Homo sapiens: one gene and its partners. The protein of the gene in region 3 interacts with the protein of the main gene of each other region in a biochemical or structural test. Each region holds a gene or a part of one and is shown on either strand. Other genes may lie near its edges.

What was found.
Region 1: the proteins of CTSD (region 3) and SPRED2 form a complex in vitro, tested with the Homo sapiens proteins (one study listed by BioGRID).
Region 2: of the proteins of CTSD (region 3) and MAPT, one has a biochemical effect on the other in vitro, tested with the Homo sapiens proteins (one study listed by BioGRID).

Annotation. Positions count from the first base shown.
Region 1 is NC_000002.12:65,331,531-65,335,178, forward strand, and holds part of SPRED2 (sprouty-related, EVH1 domain-containing protein 2), read right to left. Parts: intron 3,244-3,648; coding exon 3,075-3,243; intron 3,058-3,074; exon of another isoform or gene 2,589-3,057; coding exon of another isoform or gene 2,585-2,588; intron 522-2,584; coding exon 457-521; intron 1-456. UniProt on the Homo sapiens protein: Negatively regulates Ras signaling pathways and downstream activation of MAP kinases. Recruits and translocates NF1 to the cell membrane, thereby enabling NF1-dependent hydrolysis of active GTP-bound Ras to inactive GDP-bound Ras.
Region 2 is NC_000017.11:45,988,534-45,992,181, reverse strand, and holds part of MAPT (microtubule-associated protein tau), read right to left. Parts: intron 2,305-3,648; coding exon 2,107-2,304; intron 723-2,106; coding exon 596-722; intron 1-595. UniProt on the Homo sapiens protein: Promotes microtubule assembly and stability, and might be involved in the establishment and maintenance of neuronal polarity.
Region 3 is NC_000011.10:1,753,928-1,757,575, forward strand, and holds part of CTSD (cathepsin D preproprotein), read right to left. Parts: intron 3,630-3,648; coding exon 3,397-3,629; intron 1,102-3,396; coding exon 979-1,101; intron 212-978; coding exon 67-211; intron 1-66. UniProt on the Homo sapiens protein: Acid protease active in intracellular protein breakdown. Plays a role in APP processing following cleavage and activation by ADAM30 which leads to APP degradation.

The DNA of each region.
Region 1 (3,648 bases), on a different chromosome or scaffold from region 3:
TCAGGAAAGATACTGCTGGCTTTCCCCCCTGATGCCAGGGAGGGAAGCGTGTTCACAGAAGACTCCAAATAGGGCAAGCGATTGTCCTGGCTTGCCTGGGATTGAGGTGTTTCCCAGGACTAGGGACATTTTGTGCTAAAACCAGGACAGACTTGGGCAAACCAGGGCAGCTGGTCATCCTAAATCTGAGCAAAGACTTTAAGACAACCTTGGACAGACCTGGGAGAGCTGACACTGCTGTGCTGTGTGGCAGATGTGCAGTGTTGCTCACTGCAGCGTGAGCAACAGGGACAAACCCAGCCTGAGAAAAATTGTAGTAAGACAGAGATCGCTCTGATGCCATCCAAACAGCAACAGCAAACACTGCATTGCAAAGTGTGCCTCATGCCCTTAAACAAAACCTTTCTCTGATTATTCAACAACTAATCTGGAAAGCAAAGGACAAAGGAAACTTACTGTAAAAACGTCATCATCGCCAAGCTCAGCTTCATTATGGATGGTGGAAGATGACGTTGTTGAACCTAAAAAGACAAAAATGTAATAAAAAGTGTTTCCCAAGAGGATACATCAAATCCAACCGTTTAAAAAAGTATATTTTAATAAAACCACATTCCATTCTTTTTGCATGTGAATTACCAACAGAAACAAGTTACCTGGGAATTGAGTGCTTTTAATTTACTCTTCTTTAATTGATTCTTGCCAGGATGCTCCCTAAATTAACTTTGCCTGCTGTTGTTCCCAATTAATCTCTCAAACTTCTGCACTCGCTGCTAGAGAATAAGCACACAGAAAGGCACTGTGGAGGAGGTGAGGGGAGAGGCTGCCCACTCCTCTGAGGGACATGCATCGAGCCCAGCCTCTGTAGTGACCTTGAGGTCCCAGCCGTGTAGTGGGAAAAGCACTGGACGGGGAACCCCTAAGTGAGACCTGCCACAATCTACTGTGTAAACTGGATTTAGCTCCTCTGGTCTTTTCACCTACCAATGAAGGCATTTTAGCTCAATAGCTTGTATGGTTGTGTCCAGTTCTGAATTCAGATGTTGTATTTCTAAATCCCAAATTGTGGGCTCCCTTCTAAGGGGACACCTGTGCAAGGGGGTTTCCTCTTGCAATACCAAGGCATCAGTGAGTTTGCTTTGTTTTTCCAAGTCAAAATTACAGCTCTTGTTAGAAAACCCTCCTTATTCCATCATGGAACCAATTGGATTTTAGAGTTCAATGTAATTACTTGTTCACCTTTTTCTTCATTCTGGTATGCGAATCAGGTACAACTGCCCTACTTCCCCCCACCACCCTGAATAGCAGACAATAATGCATGGATCAACTTAATTGGCCAAAAGAAAGACATATTTAAAATTGCATCAGTGACAGATATACCAAAAGGGAAATTTATTCTCTATCTTTTCCTTTTCTTGGTTAGATCTTTTAAAATATGCATTTAGAAAATATTTTGCTGGCCAGACGCAGTGGCTCACGCCTGCAATCCGAGCACTTTGGGAGGCTGAGGCCGGCAGATCACGAGGTCAGGAGTTCAAGACCAGCCTGGCCAACATAGTGAAACCCTGTCTCTACTAAAAATACAAAAATTAGCTGGGTGTGATGGCGGGCGCCTGTAATCCTAGCTACTGGGGAGGCTGAGGCATGAGAATCGCTTGAACCTGGGAGACGGAGGTTGCAGTGAGCCGAGATGGCACCACTGCACTCCAGCCTGGGCTGGAGACTCCATCTCAAAAAAAAAAAAAAAAGAAAAAGAAAATATTTTGCTATTACATGAAATTGAAATGAAAACAATTGCTCAGAAAGGATGAGAAATACTTAAATTTCCAACGAGAGACTGCAGGAGAAAAAACAACAGTCCCATAGTATGTTCTGTGCAACTCCTACTGGTCTTTCGGGAGCTGTCTCTACTCTGAATTACTCCAATCAACCAATGTTCTAGGAAAACTGGTGGAAAAAAAAGCTAGATAGTATGTATATAGAGAAAAAAATTACAAGTAGGAGAATGAAATGTTGTGCAATTAAGTACATGGACACAATGCGAACGTCTATCAATAATATAGGAGCTGTTTTTTCTCTAAACATGAAAAAGCTGTGTTTAATAACATTTTAAATATTTGCCACTTATGTCAGAACTATGATTTGAACACTGGTTTTTATTATCTCTTTTTGGCTATCTCATACTTGTTTATGGATTCATGTTCTAGCTAGTCTTGTCTTACTACTGATTATAATGTTAAGTAATTTGTCTTTTAAGACTTGCTTTTTTTCCTCTTCCCCCAAATCCACAATGAAGAAAATGACTTCAGAACACTTTTATTTCTTAAGCAAATGAAACATACATCCTTTTGTGATTAATTTCCCCAAGATCTGAATTTGGTATTAACATGCCTTGCTTGATATTTCTTTCTTCACAGGGCCCTGTCTATGGCTTCTTTAACCCTCTGATTTGATACCTGGATGTGCTGCAGTGGAGAATTTTTGTGTTTGCATCTGTGGACTCTAGTCAAGCCCACCATGAGAACTGACTGCCCAAGGGCCCTCCAGGCCACGATCAGATGTAACACAATGCCTACTACTCACTTACCCATAGACCAAGGCCTAAACCGAACCAGGGCTCCAGAGGTCACAGATCCCTTTCCTTTTCAGTGGCAGCTGTACACCCTGGGCCTCTGATTACAGGAGGACAGTGGGTAGGCCAGGAGCCTTCTGGGCCCGCCAGAATCCATTCTCTACTTCTGAGCCAAGACAGACCAGACCAAAGCCATTTCAATAGTCAGGACAAGGTGAAAGCAGTCAAAAATACATGCACATGGAAATCCAGAACCTGCCTGTTTTTTCACAGCAGAGTCTAAAAATCAATTGGGATTACTCCTTACTCTGAAACCCATCTCCTTTTCCCTGAATTGTCACTTTAATTACTCTCCTTGGAAATTCCAAAAGTTTTGGCATCTACTGACCTGGTCCCAAACCCTCCCGCAAATAAACCACAAATAAATGATGGCAGACTATTGGAATTAAAAATAATTTGGAACATTTCCATAGTCCCACTAAGAATGCAGCGACAAGTTCAATACCTTCTATAAGGTCTTCGATTGCTTTCCTTACTCCCCTGTCAAAGGCTCGGGCATCAGCAGGGCTTTGGAAAGTAAGTCCAAACTTCCTATTATCGACCTTCCAGTGATGAAACGTTGGATTGGCTTTGGTGTAGACCAAGTCCTTTCTTACATAGCATTCCAATACCACCTGAAGGATGGAAACACACAGGCTGGTTACTAGTGGAACAGCCATGATGATGTCTGGTTACAGAAGTCTAATTAGGAACCATCACTGGTGGCAACTACCAAAACCCCTCTAACCCCTGCCTTCACATATCTGTGAGTCTCTCCAATGGGAAAGGAGGCTTTGCTTGGCTGCTGACCATCCGATCTTCGCTGCTCCCCACTGTCCTGGTTGTACCCCTTCACTACACTCTCTTCATCACGGTTATTCCTCTTCCTCCTGGCTGCAGGGCACTAAGTTGATGCTCAGGTCTTGGGTCTTGGCTGTATTTCAGATTACTGCTTTTATGTTGGGGTTTTTATATTGATGGTCATCTAGCTTCCCTCCCCCGAGGCTCCAAATTCCAAAAGTTGAAAAATTAACTTTACT
Region 2 (3,648 bases), on a different chromosome or scaffold from region 3:
GCTCGATTTCTTTCTTTTTTTTCCTTTTTCTGTATTTTTTTTTATCATGCTGCAGAATCAGCCTCAATTTCTTCATTGATAAAAAGTGAGGATTCAGGCTGGGAGTGGTGGCTCATGCCTGTAATCCCAGCACTTTGGGAGGCCGAGGCAGGTGGATCACCTGAGGTCAGGCGTTCGAGACCAGCCTGGCCAACATGGTGAAACCCTGTCTCTACTAAAAATACAAAAAATTAGCCGGGCATAGTGGCAGGTGCCTGTAATCCCAGCTACTAGGGAGGCTGAGGTAGGAGAATCGCTTGAACCTGGGAGGTGGAGGATGCAGTGAGCTGAGATCACACCACTGCACTCCGGCCTGGATAACAAAAGCGAAACTCTGTCTCAAAAGAAAAAAAAAAAAAAAGGTAGGGATTCAACATTTGCCTCAGAAATCAAAAGGACTGAGAAGGCAATGAAGACTCCAGTGCTTAGTAAACTGCAAGCTGCTGACCAGCTGCCAGGGGTTATTCATTCTCAGTGGCCTAAGGCCTCCTAAAATGAAGGCTGTACCTCTGAGAGCTTCAGCTTCCTCTAAGATTCAAGAGAACGTTCTTCTTACCAGAGCTGGGTGGTGTCTTTGGAGCGGGCGGGGTTTTTGCTGGAATCCTGGTGGCGTTGGCCTGGCCCTTCTGGCCTGGAGGGGCTGCTCCCCGCGGTGTGGCGATCTTCGTTTTACCATCAGCCCCCTGTAAATGAAACATGATAGAGGGGTTTTTCACCATTGGGAAAAGTTACTGCCACCAAGAGTCAACACCAGCCCCACTCCGCCACCTTGACTCAAAACGTGGCTAAGACTGGGGTGACCCTTTGCCTCCTAGATGCCACTAGTGTCTGCTACAACCACAAGGGCTTGCTGGGCACACAAACCCACATCCCCACCCAAACTCCAAGTTCCCTGAGGACATTTCCTCCCAGAGGAACTGTGTGCATTAGTTATCAGCATGAGTTGTGCCAAGGCCAGCAGAGCTCACAGCAATGATCAGGTCACTCTCCACTCCATGTCAATCATCGGCAGGACATTAGTGCACTACACATATGCAGACATCCATTTTCTGACTCTAATTATGGATTTATTTGGCTGATGGTGGTTGGCTCCACCAGAGGCCCCTGGGGGCAGTGTTGAACCTGACCAAGGATGCTAAAGAGAGCTAGGTCGTGTTCTTTCATTCTCTCGCAAACAACCCTAAGGCCTCAAGAACTCCTTGGGTGTGCTCAGACCAGGCGAGCACCCGAGGAGGCGAGCACCAGCATCACTGACAAAGCTGGCAGAGTCGGGCATGGCACAGTCTAGGGACTAGGGCAGTCCCTGGGTTCCGTTACCCAGCAGATGACCCTTAGACATAACACAAACTCAAAAAAGAAACTGACATTAACCAAGGACCACAAGCTAGTTGAGGGGGCAGTGAGCTCACGGGGCAGTGTTGCTATGGCGTGATGCTGTCCTACCCAGATCAGGGCAATCTGGAAGCATTTCTCTTGCCAAAATCAGGAATGGGCAAAGGAACCCAATGAGAGTAGCAATTTTGGGTTTGTTTTTTAAACAATTTTTGCGACAGGGTCTTGCTCTGTCGCCCAAGCTGGAGCTAACTACAACCTCTGCCTCTGGGGTTCAAGCAATCCTTGTGCCTCAGCCTCCCGAGTAGCTGCGATTACCACCACGCATACCACCACGCCCGGCTAATTTTTGTATTTTTAGTAGAGACAGGGTTTTGCCATGTTAGCCAGGCTGGTCTCGAACTCCTGATCTCAGGTGATCCACCCTCCTCGGCCTCCTAAAGAGCTGGGATTACAGGTGTGAGCCACCGTGCCCAGCCTTAGAGTAGCGATTTCGAAACCAAGGTCCCACCAGGTGTCTTAGGAGCTGCTGCTATGAGAGCCTGTGGGGTGCTGAGAGGGATGGCCCCCAGCTCTCTTTTCCCCTTTGCCCAGAATTCTAACTATTTTACACGGTGCTTCTATGCCAGAACTCATTTGAAGAAAGGTCTTTGAGGCTAAAAAACAAATAAACAAACCCCACATTTGCAAACCACAGCAGAGCAGCCTGGTTCTTTTCAAAGGTGGTTTCCTTACCTTGAGTTTCATCTCCTTTGCTCCAGAACTGCCAGTTCGGGAAGTGACAGAAGAGACGTATTTAGGAGAGGAAGGTGGCTCTGGGCACACAGCAGGGCTGGAGGGTTGGATCAGAGGGTCTGAGCTACCAGGAGTGGGGTGTTTGGGGCTAAGGCAAGGCCTATTTTTCAAGGTTTTAGCAGAGGAACGTGTGGATGTCTTAAACATAAACATAAATAAAATCAAAATAAAAGTCAGCACATGGAGGAGGGAAACAAACTGAAAAAAGGACAGTAACTAAAAATAAATAAGGCAGGTAATGGTTGAAAGCAGTGATCTCCAGGCTGTTTGAATCAGGTACCCTTAATATCCCTTCTGATCAGTAAGAACAGGAAAGTGACCGTCCTCCCCAATCACAGTTCTTTTTCTTTTTCTTTTTCTTTTTTGAGACGGAGTCTCGCTCTGTCGCCCAGGCTGGACTGCAGTGGTGCAATCTCGGCTCACTGCAAGCTCTGCCTCCTGGGTTCACGCCATTCTCCTGCCTCAGCCTCCCGAGTAGCTGGGACTACAGGCGCCCACCACCACGCCCGGCTCGTTTTTTTGTATTTTTAGTAGAGATGGGGTTTCACTGTGTTAGCCAGGATGGTCTCGATCTCCTGACCTCGTGATCCACCCGTCTCGGCCTCCCAAAGTGCTGGGATTACAGGCGTGAGCCACCGCGCCTGGCCCTGACAAAGCTTTTAGAAGAGGACATGAAAAAGGAATGGAAGTTCTAGTACGTTCTTTCTCCAGCCTGTTGGATGTTACTGTGCCCCTGAATTTGGAGACGACTGGTTTAAAGGTGCTTCACATGAGTAAGTTGATGGAGATCATCAAGGTACATGAATCTTAGGATGTTACTCAAGAAAATGTCCCCAAGTGTGTCACGGGGTCTGAAGGGCCTTACTTTCTACTCAATTCCAGGCAAGGTGCTTTTTTACCTGCCCATTAACCCATGGCCTCTTCCACCACACTGACAGACTCATATGGCTACAATCAGGAGTGTGCCCCCCCCAAGTTGGAAAGATTCTACCTGACTTAGGTTACACCCACCCCCACCACACATGTGCTTTCTGATTAAAGTCTCAAATCAAACTAATATTAACACTATCTGGTGAATCCTAATCTGGCCAATGTTAACTCTTTTGTTTGTTTGTTTGTTTGTTTGTTTTAGAGACAGGGTCTCCCTCTGTTGCCCTGGCTGGAGTGCAGTGGTGCCATCACGGCTCACTGCAGCCTCCACCCTTTGGGTTCAAGTGATCCTCCCACCTCTGCCTGGCCAATTAAATTTTTTTTTTGAGATGGGGTCTTGCTATGTTGCCCAGGCTGGTCTAGAACTCTTGGGCTGGGGACATCCTCCCACCTTAGCCTCCCAAAGTGCTGGGATTACAGGCATGAGCCACTGTGCCAAGCCTCCAATGTTATCTCTTTTTCTTTTTTTTTCAGTTTGTCAGTGTAAACAACACTGCTTACTTTTGAACCCATTCCACAAGAGGAAGCAGCCAGGGACGGGTGTCTGCACGC
Region 3 (3,648 bases):
GTGGTAGTGGTGGCCTTGGGGCTCCCCCTGCCAGCCCCAGCCCCAGCCCCAGCCCCCGGCGCTCACCTCGCCCTGAATCAGCGGCACGGCCCCGATGGCCTTCTGCAGCTCGCGCACCTCATCCACCGGGCCCACCATGAGGGAAGTGCCTGTGTCCACAATGGCCTCACAGCCCTCCTTGCACAGGGTCAGCCCGCTGGCCACCTCCACCCTGCGGGGAGTCAGGGCGTGAAGCCCCTGCCGGGACTGGAGTGTGCCCTGGGGGCCCAGTGCCCCTCCCTGGGAGCCCCTCCCCTGGCTGGGCTGCACTCTCCTCCCCTCAGGGCTCCTGGAAGCACAGCCGGCTGTAAGCCCTCCAGGGAAGAGGGTGGGAGAGGAGACACAGAGTGGTAGAGGGGGTGGGAGACCCTCAGGTGGTGGTGAGGGGCATGGAGGGATGGAGGGGATGGAGGGGCATAGAGGGATGGAGGGGATGGAGGGGATGAAGGGATGGAGGGGCATGGAGGGATGGAGGGATGGAGGGATAGACAGATGGAGGGGATGGAGGGTCATGGAGAGTCACAGAGGGATGTGGGGATGGAGGGATGGAGGGATGGAGGGGATGGAGGGATGGAGGGATGGAGGGGATGGAGGGATGGAGGAGATGGAGGGTCATGAAGAGTCACAGAGGGATGAGGGGATGGAGGGGATGGAGGGCATGGAGGGATGGACAGAAGGGATGGTGGGTCATGGAGAGTCACAGAGGCATGGAGGAAATGGAGGGATGGAGGGATAGAGGGAATAGAGGGGATGGAGGTGATGGGGAGCATGGAGGGGCAAGGAGGGGCATGGAGGGCTGGTCTGACCCCATCTCTTTCTTGCCCAGCTCCCACTACTCCCCACATGCAACCCCCACCTGCAGAACCGGGGTCCTCCAGGGTCTCCGCACACCGCCCCCGCCCACAGAACCCAGGGGAGCCGACTGCAGCCACTACTCACTGGTCCAGGTGGACCTGCCAGTAGGCCTTGCGGGTGACATTCAGGTAGGACAGAGAACCCTTGTAATACTTGGAGTCTGTGCCACCCAGCATCAGCTCACCCCCAGGCTGCGCATCTGGGTCCCTAGGAGGAAAAGGGAGGAGTCAGCTGCCACGCCACCCCCCAAGCACAAGAGTGCCAGGTCAGGAGTAAGAGGGTGAATGTGGCAATCAGGGAGAGCTTCCTGAAGGAGGGGCCTTTCTGAAACTGCAGGGATGGAAAGGCCCAGAAGGCAGGAGGAGGGACAGACTCCCTTCTTCCCGGGGTAGGGCTGCTCTGCGTGGGCCCAGCCTGGCCCAGAAGAGGTTTTCCTCAACCCTCAGGTTCTCCTGGTCTGCTCAGGAGCCAAGGTTCAGCCAGACATCAGGGTCAAGGCTAGCGGCAGACAAGGAAGTGAGTGCCAGGAGCTCCACTGGGGAGGACCCTGTCTGTCTGTCTGGAAGAAAAAACCAAAGAAGGCTTCCAGGAGGGAGTGATGGCACAATCTGGGAAGTTGGGATGGCTGGTTCTGGCCGCAGGGCCTCTGCACTGGCTGCTCCTGGGAACACCCTCCACCTGCATCCCCGAGCCACGTCCGCTCATCTCCCCCTCATCCAGACCACTGATGGCCAGCCAAGGTGCTCCTGGGCAGGAGCGCACTGCACTTCCTAGGACCTGCAACCCATGTCGCCCGGGTTTGTTTCTAAACATTGCTCAAGTACAGCTTTCAACGCAGCAAATCCTGCCGGTCCTGGTAGAGAAGCTCTCTGTGTCTGGGGCGGTTCTGCCATCCCGCCAGAGCGTCTGCAGCTAAGCTGGCCACCATCCCACTGCCTGTCACTCGAGGCAGTGCCAGGCCTGACCCAGTCCTCCCAACACCGATTGGGGCCTCCGCCCTCCTCCAGCCTCCTCCGCCTTTGCCTCTTGTCAACACCTCTGCAATCCCAAGTGTAGAAACCTGATCAGCGCCTCCCACCCCTCCTCTCCTCACCAAACATGCTTTCAGAAGCCCTCAGACCCTCCCTCCTGCCTGGCTCCACTTCCTGCCCAAGCTGCTGCCTTGAGACTACACCTGGGCACTCACAACCATGTGCACCTCCCCCACCTGGGCACTCACTCTGTGTGCCCCTCCTTCCACCTGGCACTCATGCCTGTGTATGCCTCCCCCGACCTGGGTACTCATACCGTGTGCCCCTCCCCCACATGGGCACTCATGCTGTGTGCCCCTCCCCCACATGGGCATTCATGCCTGTGTCCCCCTCCCTGACCTGGGTACTCAGGCTGTGTGCCCCCTCCCCATGTGGGCACTCATGCCTGCATGCCCTCTTGCCCTCAGGGGACCCCTTTTCACCTGGCTGCCTCCCCTGTGCCCCAAGGCTCCTGGGGAAATGGCCCAGCCGGTTCACCTGTGTCCTGGCCTCTAGTGAGCAGCTTAGCCCTGGGTGTTGCTAAGGAGTATTCACTGCCCAGGCAAGGGGCAGAGCAAAGAGGCCCAGCCAGCCCTACAGCCGGAATTCTGCCGGAAGCGATCCAAGGTTAGGGGTCAGGCCCAGAGACTCCAAGTGCCAAGTGAGCCACGTGAGGTAAACCTGCCCCTGTCAGCCCTGGAGAGTGTGGGGCAGTGACCAGGCGCAGCTCAGGGCAGGAGGCCGCCGGCTGACACGCTGCCCACCCCCAAAACAAAAGCCCCCAACCCCCAGTCACCCCTCTTATGTGGAACCCTCCACTCAGGTCTGCCCCGAGAAGAGGAAACTAACTGAGTCCGACGTCCCCTTCCCAAGGTCACCTGACCATGGGTCACCCAAGCTGGAGCAGCGGCTGCAGGTGGGGGCCCTGGGGGAGAACCCTTTTCCCAGAAGGAAGGGCCCCCTATGTTCCTCCTCGAGGGCAGCCGGCACCTGCTGGGGACGCCCACAGAGCTGCTCGCAGCGTGGTGCCGGGGACCCATACGCACCCAAGGTCACCTCCCCGGGGATCCCCGGTCCCCTGGGCACCATGACCCTCTCCACCATCAGCAACCCCGGGACCAGGACCACATGTGCCCATCACCAGGTCTGGGGACCGACGGGCCGACTGAACCAAGAGGAACTGCCACGACCCCTGACCTGGGTCCATTCTCATAGGAGGGAGGCCCAGCTGCCAAGGTCCCAGGACCCACAGCCTGGCCCGAGCCCCTCCCACTGGGAGACCCCGGCCAAACAGCTTTCTCTGTGCTGCCGCTTACTCCTCTGCAGAAGGGCGGCCAACCCCCGCCTCCCGGATGCCCTGAGGTCAGAGGTCAGGAGCTCTGGCACAGCAGCAGGGAGGGGGCAGCACTGAGAGGGGGTGCCTAGAAGGCTCCCCGTCCAGCCCCGCCCTGCCTCCCAGCAACGCGGAGCGAGAGGGAACCCACACGCCCACCTGCTCAGGTAGAAGGAGAAGATGTTCTGGTCCACCAGCTTCTGCTGCATCAGGTTGTCGAAGACGGGCAGCACGTTGTTGACGGAGATGCGGGGGTAGGCCATGCCCAGGATGCCATCGAACTTGGCTGCGATGAAGGTGATGCCTGGCTGCTTGGTGGCCTCCCCAAAGACCTGCCTCTCCACTTTGACACCGCCCAGGGCAGAGGCTGACGACGCTGACTGGCAGGGCACCTGCAGGCCAGGGCAGAGT